2 linked regions of the Homo sapiens genome follow. The protein of the gene in region 2 purifies or fractionates together with the protein of the main gene of each other region. This does not show direct contact. Each region holds a gene or a part of one and is shown on either strand. Other genes may lie near its edges.

What was found. The genes of interacting proteins can lie anywhere in the genome.
Region 1: the proteins of CFAP36 (region 2) and KCTD10 purify together in Homo sapiens (affinity purification with mass spectrometry; 2 studies listed by BioGRID and IntAct, with this or other methods). This does not show direct contact.

The regions. Positions count from the first base shown.
Region 1 is NC_000012.12:109,456,623-109,460,374, reverse strand, and holds part of KCTD10 (BTB/POZ domain-containing adapter for CUL3-mediated RhoA degradation protein 3), read left to right. Parts: intron 1-2,293; coding exon of another isoform or gene 2,294-2,296; coding exon 2,297-2,383; intron 2,384-2,692; coding exon 2,693-2,745; intron 2,746-3,752. UniProt on the Homo sapiens protein: Substrate-specific adapter of a BCR (BTB-CUL3-RBX1) E3 ubiquitin-protein ligase complex. The BCR(BACURD3) E3 ubiquitin ligase complex mediates the ubiquitination of target proteins, leading to their degradation by the proteasome.
Region 2 is NC_000002.12:55,522,568-55,526,319, forward strand, and holds part of CFAP36 (cilia- and flagella-associated protein 36), read left to right. Parts: intron 1-1,153; coding exon 1,154-1,255; intron 1,256-3,752. UniProt on the Homo sapiens protein: May act as an effector for ARL3.

The DNA.
Region 1 (3,752 bases), on a different chromosome or scaffold from region 2:
GCAGAGAACCCCGCGGTGTGAAACTTGGTCGGTGTTCGGGACCAATCTTAGGGCTTACTCTAGTCCCACAAGTCATTGTTGGGAGCTCAGCATAATCTCTACAGACAGACACCCCTCACTCCTTAGCTAGACAGAGCAGGACCACTGGAGTCAGGTCTGGTGACAGTAAAATCCCACAAAAACAAAATGCTTCTAGACATGGCCAACACCCCTTTATTTCAAACAAAGTTGCAACGTGGCAGAGCATCAGAAGCATCCCTTTGGGTTTTCGTAGGAATCTGGTCTGTGTGCATGAGGCCCTTGTTTGGGCCTCCCCCACACCACATGTCTGTGTCTGGCCCCGCACCGGACCAGTACCCATAATGCTGCACACCACCTCTACTCTGAGAGTCTGAACTCACTGCAGACCTAACTGAATGTTGCAGCATTTACTTTTTTATTATTACTACACTGTTGAAAGTGATGCACATGCATCCTTCAAGAAGTCAAATAGTGCTGCAAGGTTAACATCAAAACACCACCATACCCCTCCTACTCTCCTTCACCCTTGCAGTAACCTCTGTGAATTCTTTCAGCAGTTTTTTCTGTTCACATTTATGTTTCCACATAATTCGCCTGTGCTGCTCTTTATTGAATTCCCAGTTTTTGACATTATCTACTGGCATGACTATAGAAACTAGAATTTAGCTCACGCACTGCCCCTACCTCTACCCCCACCAAGCTTAGGCATACTTTTCCTTCTCCCATTCTCCCAGTACAGTTCATCACAGTTTTGGTTAAATTCAGAGTTTACGTCATGACGTGTAAATACGGCTGACAGTTAAGCCACAGAGTGTACAGTGATTATTTTCTTTCTTCTATAACTTTAAGTTTGCCAGAGTTAGGGATTGCCTCATTGTTTTGTTCACTTGGTTTTCTAAATATATGTTCCTACTTCAGCCCCACGTTCTCAGCGGTCTCATAGTGGTGTGTTCAGACACATCAGAGGTTCTGTTTCATCTTTGTCTTGGAGACATGCCCCTGGGTCTCGTTTCTGTTAGTCTAAGGTTAGACCTCCAGGACTGACCTCCTAATTCTTTCCTCTTAGTGTCTCTGGCTTTATCCTTTTGTTCTACTTTCTCAGAAGTTTTATTTTTCACCTTTTCAACCCTTCTATCAAAATTTTCATTTCTGCTTCGTCTTTCTAACTTCAGGAGCCTTTTCTTGCTGTCCGAATGCCCTGCTTTCCACAGCGTGCTCATCTTGTTTCCTAGGAGGCCGTATCTGCTCTCAACTGTCTGATGATTCTGTTTGTTTTCTTTCTTCTCCCTTCATTATCTGACTCCTCCTCTTTTCCTGTCTTTGTTTTGGTTTTGTTCTCATGTTAAAGAGGCTTTTCACATGTAATCTGATGATGCTTGGCTGTCTGTTGAAGGAATGAGAGACTCTGAAAGCTGTTTGTGCATGGAAGGTCCTTGTTGTCCACTGGGCTGCATTGTGGGTGATAAGGCAGACTTTTTCAGCGGGACCCCCAACTGTCAGAATCTGTAAGCCATTTTGGGGGAAGCAGGTGGTGTTCCTGAAGAGGAATCCTCTACTCTCCTCCTGCCTGACGGGTCTAGGCCTGGCCGGCTGCCTTTGGGGATCTGGAAGGGGAAGGAGCTGGGGTTGCTCATCACTTAGTGTGATGTTCACTTGTCCCCCCGTTTTCAGAATCGCAGCTCAGCCCTGTCCTCTACCGTGCAAACCACTGCAGGAAGATGGCCCTTTCTTCTGCCTGCATGGGGACGGAGATGGATTTGGGGATCTTTCCAGTGCTTCCGCCCACTGGTTTCAGCTTTCCCCCTCTCCTTGGTTAACGCTCACCTGTGACCTTTCTACCCTCAAATTTTTGACTTTTTTTACTGGTCTGCTGACCTCACTTCTCCCATTCTTTTTCCCCTTATGGGTTTATGCTTTTTTTTTTAATTCCTCTGCAGTCATGGTAGTGGGGTTTTAGGAGCTTTTGATTAAAACACGTTTCTGCTGCCACGTCAAGGGTTTATTTTTGAGTGGCTTCCTGGGCTGTGGAAAATGTGTCATCATTGTTAGTACTTACTCAGCATCCTGGCCTATCATGGTCATAGCCAAAGAGCAGACTTACTGGGAAATTCAACTCCCTGTCTTCCCCCATCTAGTTCACTGGTGGTGAGAATCCTTCTCTCTTCCCAGCCATGACTGCCCCATCTCCCCTCGCCAGAGCCTGTCCAGCCGGTCAACTTTAAAAATGCAGTGCTAGGCAGGCCTCCTAGGCTGAAAGCATGTTTTGTTCCAGCAGAACAAAGATACTTATGAGCCTTTCTGCAAGGTCCCTGTGATCACCTCATCCAAGGAAGAACAAAAACTTATAGCGACTTCAAATAAGGTATGTTGGAGGCACCCTTGTGGAATTTCTTTTGCTACCAGAAATGATGGAGGTTCTTCTGAATAACTTTTGAAATAAAAACATGTATAATTGCCTGAGTGAGGCCTGATAATGGGTTCACAGTGGGAAGCTACAGGTCATCTTTTGTGCCCCTGCTATTGGGTCATGTGGTCCCCCTCTCCAGCCAGCAAGCTATGCTTGTCTGCCTCTTCTGATGCAGGGCAGGGCCCCAGCCCTATGGGAAGCTAGTAGTTCATTGCATCTGCCTGCCAAGTAACTCTCTTCTTCTTCTTTTAAAACAACCCACAGCCAGCCGTGAAGTTGCTCTACAACAGAAGTAACAACAAATACTCATATACCAGGTAAGGCGTCAGCCGGGAAAGACAGCTCCATTTACTAGGAAAACCTCCACTCACACCAGCCAGGCCCAGCTCTTCTTCGTACCTTCAGATGAGGATGACCCCTCTGTACCTCTCTGCCTGGATAGATAAGTAGACAGATGGATACAGGGGTATAACTCTGAGCTATAATTCACACATATCATAAAAGTCATCTTTCTAGAGTGTACAGTTATTATTATATTCACAATATGTGGTTTTTATATATTCACAAGTTGTGAGGCCATAACGACTATCTAATTTTAGAACTTTTTCACTGCCTGAAAAGAAACCCTCTATTCGTTAGCAGTCACTCCCCATTTTCCCTCAACCATTGCTTCCCCAACCCCACAGCCCTAGGTAACCACTAATCTGTTTTCTGTCTTGATGAATTTGCCTGTTCTGGACATTTTTATGTGAATGGAATTGCATAATATATGGCCTTTTGTGACCAGATTCCTTCATTCAGCATAATGAGATTACCTAAGAGGTTTTCAAGGTTTATCCATGTTGTAGCATGAATCAATACTTCATTCCTTTTTATGGCAGAATAATATTCCACAGTGTAGACCACATTTTCTTTACCCATTCATCAGTTGATGGACATTTGGGTTGTTTGCACTTTTTGGCTATTGTGTGTAATGCTGTTATGAACATTCATGCAAAGTCTCTATGTGGACTTACGTTTTCATTTCTCTGGGAACAGAATTGCTGGGTCATGTGGTAATTCTATGTTTAATCATTCGAGGACCTGCCAAACTGTTTTCTAAAGTGGCTGCACCATTTTACATTCCCACCAGCAATATATGCAGGTTTCTAGAATGCCATTTGGCCCTTGAAAACATGTGGCTCTAACTCAGGAACTTGAGGGATGCAGGGAGGATTTAATCAGGTTACTCAAGATCTTTAAAAAGACCTAGGATATAGAGTCTCCCTTGGGCAGTGCCATTCTGCTCCTCTTGGGGCTCGGTGAGGTGCTCTCCTCCACCTGG
Region 2 (3,752 bases):
TCAACCTCCCCAGGCTCAAGCGATCCTCCCATCTCAGCCACCTGAGTAGCTGGGACTACAGGTGTGCACCACCATGCCCTGCTAATTTTTTTGTATTTTGTAGAGATGGCGTTTCTCTGTGTTTCCCAGGCTGGTGTGGAACTCCAGAGCTCAAGTGATCCACCTGCCTGGGCCTCCCAAAGTGTTGGGTTTACAGGTGTGAGCCACTGCCCAGCCTGTCTTGTGATTTTAAAAAATGCCTCTGGCAGTGGGGCTCAGTGGCTCACACCTATAATCCCAGCACTTTGGAGGCCAAGGCAGGTGGATTGCTTCAGCCAAGGAGTTCGAGACCAGCCTGGGCAACATGGTGAAACTCCATCTTTATAAAAATTACAAAAATTAATCAGTCATGATGGCATGTGCCTGTAGTCCCAGTTGCTTGGGAGGCTGAAGTGGGAGGATGATCTCTTGAGCCCAGAAGGTCAAGGCTGCAGTGAGCCATTACTGTGCCACTGTACTCCAGTCTGGACAACAGAGTAAGACTCTGTCTCAAAAAAAAAAAAAAGAAAGAAAGAAAGAAAAGGCCAGGCGTGGTGGCTCATGCCTATAATCCCAGCACTTTGGGAGGCCAGGGCAGGCGGATCACCTGAGGTCAGGAATTCGAGACCAGCCTGACCAACATGGTGCAACGCCATCTCTACCAAAAAAAAAAAAAAAAATTAGTCGGGCATTGTGGCAGGCGCCTCTAGTCCCAGCTACTCAGGAAGCTGAGGCAGGAGAATTGCTTGAGCCTGGGAGGCAGAGGTTGCAGTGAGCCGAGATCGTACCACTGCACTCCAGCCTGGGTGACAGAGTGAGACTCCATCTCAAAAAAGAAAGAAAAGAAAAGAAGAAAAAAAAATGCCTCTGGGTAGCAGAAGAGTTGTACCACATTGAACTTCATAATCCTGACTTCAACTATTTCTATTAGAAGAAATACAATTTCATGTGATTTTCAGCAAAAATATTAACTTTTAATTTGTGTTTTGGTGAAAGACAATGTCACTGTCATGTAATATGTAGATTAATATTTGCAAAAAATTCGATGATACTTTTCTAAACTAAATACTTAATATGCAAACTGTCATGTAGAATTTTTCTATGTAATTATAAAAGTTAAACTTTGTTTTTTTAGGTTGAAAAGCTGTTAGAAGGTTACCTCAAAGAAATTGGAATTAATGAAGATCAATTTCAAGAAGCATGCACTTCTCCTCTTGCAAAGACCCATACATCACAGGTTTTTGCTTTGTGTTATTCTGCTAACATACAGTTTTAACAAATGCCCAGGGTTAAACACTCACTTAAATTTGAATGTTTGATTGACAAAGTGTAATATTTTAGACATTGTGAGAGGTAGAAAGATAATTCATCACATATGAGTTCTTTTTGAGAGCAACCCTGAAAAATGATAATTTGAGGCATTAATGAACTGATGCAACTCAAAGTGACCTTTCTAAACTCAGAACTAGAATAAGATCACAGGGTTTATACAAACTACTGTTTTATTTACATAGATCTCCAATAATTCTGCAGTTGCTCCTTTTATAATTTTAGCAGATCCACAGTCAGTAGTTCCTGCTGCTGCTTCCTTCTCTTGGAACTACTTGTATTATCTTACTGGTTGTGTAGTGCTAGGCTGAAGTAGTAATACATATGTTATAAACTAATGTTTGTTTTTGTTGTTTTTTTGATATGGGGTCTCACTCTATTGCTCAGGCTGGAGTTTAGTGTGATTGCAGCTCATTATAGGCTCAACATCCCTGGGCTCAGGTAATCCTCCCATCTCAACTTTCCTGGTAGCTGGGACTACAGGTGCCGCACCAGCACACATGGCTAATTTTTTTTTTTTTTTTTTTTTTTTTGTAGAGACAGGGTCTTGCTGTGTTGTCCAGGCTGGTCTTGAATGCTGGGCTCAAGGGATTTGCCCATCTTGGCCTCCCAAAGTGCTAGGATTACAGGCATGAGCCACCACGCCCAGCCTGTAAACTAATGTTTATTGAGGGCTTGTGCTAATTGATATTTTGGGCACTTGACATGTTTTATCTCATTTAATCTTCCTGACACCTCTTAAGAAACTGCTACTATATAACTTCCATTTAGAAATGAGGAAACCAGGCCCGGAGTAGTGGCTCACGCCTGTAATCCCAGTACTTTGGGAGGCCGAGGCGGGCAGATCACCTGAGGTCGGGAGTTCGAGACCAGCCTGACCAACATGGAGAAACCCCGTCTCTACTAAACATACAAAATTAGCTGGGCATGGTGGCACATGCCTGTAATCCCAGCTACTTGGGAGGCTGAGGCAGGAGAATCCCTTGAACCCGGGAGGCGGAGGTTGTGGTGAGCCAAGATCGCGCCATTGCACTCCAGCCTGGGCAACAAGAACAAAACTGTCTAAAAAAAAAAAACAAAAAAGAAATGAGGAAACCAAAGCACAGATATATTAAGCAAATAGTCCAAAGTCCACAGCTAAATAAGTAGTAGAGCCAGTATCCCCAGCCCAGGCAAGCCAACTGAGTGCCCTTGCTCAGAGGGTGAGGATTGGGATATGTTGCTACTACCCAAGTAGCCTTTTGCTCAAAAACTGAAGGCCAGGAAGTGGCTCATGCCTATAATCCCAGCACTTTGGGAGACCAAGACAGGAGGATTGCTTGAAGCCAGGGGTTCGAAACCAGCCTGGACAACATAGTGAGACCCCATCTTTAAAAAAAATATAAAAGTTAGCTTGTTGTAGGTTGTGGTGGTGTTCTCCCCAGAGTACCTACTCAGGATGCTGAAGTAGGAGCATCACTTGAGCCTAGGAGGTTGAAGCTGCAGTAAGACAAGATCATGCCACTGTACTCCAGCCTGGGCAACAGATTAGGACCCAACCCCAAAAAACAAAACATTGGCTTTGGCATCTCATCTTCTACTAAATAAACTGTAATTTCTTAGCAAGATATGGTAAGAATTGTTTAAGATGAGACTCCAGATTGTATTTTTAGCCATGATCCCTTGCTATAGTTCTCCAATACATTATGTTCTACTGCCATTCCAGGTAACTTGCTCTCTTTTTTTTTTCTTTTGAGATAGAGTTTCGCTCTTGTTGCTCAGGCTGGAGTGCAATGGCACAATCTCGGCTCACTGCAACCTCCGTCTCCTAGGTTCAAGTGATTCTCCTGCCTCAGCCTCCCAAGTAGCTGGGATTACAGGCTCCCACCACCATGCCCGGCTAAGTTTTTGTATTTTTAGTAGAGGCAGGGTTTCACTATGTTGGCCAAGCTGGAACACCTGACCTCAGGCGATCCACCCGCCTCGGCCTCCCAAAGTGCTGGGATTACAGGCGTGAGCCACCACGCCCTGCTGCCCCTTGCTCTTATAAGCATCTGTACACCTACCTTTGCTCATGCTGTCCCTTAACCTGGAATGTATGGTCCCCTCCCCAGACCACTCCATCATTCCTTTCATAATGCGGAGAAATCCTCATTATCAGGGCCTGGTTGAAATGCTACTTGTTATAGCAGCTTTGCTGCTTATTCTAAAGTCAGACCAGAATTCAATCTACTTAACTAGGCCAATTGTAAATTGATATTTTTGTTACTCTGCCTTGAATTATAGTTTCCTACAAGTCTATTTGCCCTACTAAATTGTAAGTCCTTTGAGCTGTGTTTAGTATATTTGCATTCCCTGCTGGTAGAACAGAGATGAAAACTTAGTTGCTAGTACATAGTTCTCAATAAATGTTTATTAATTTAAAT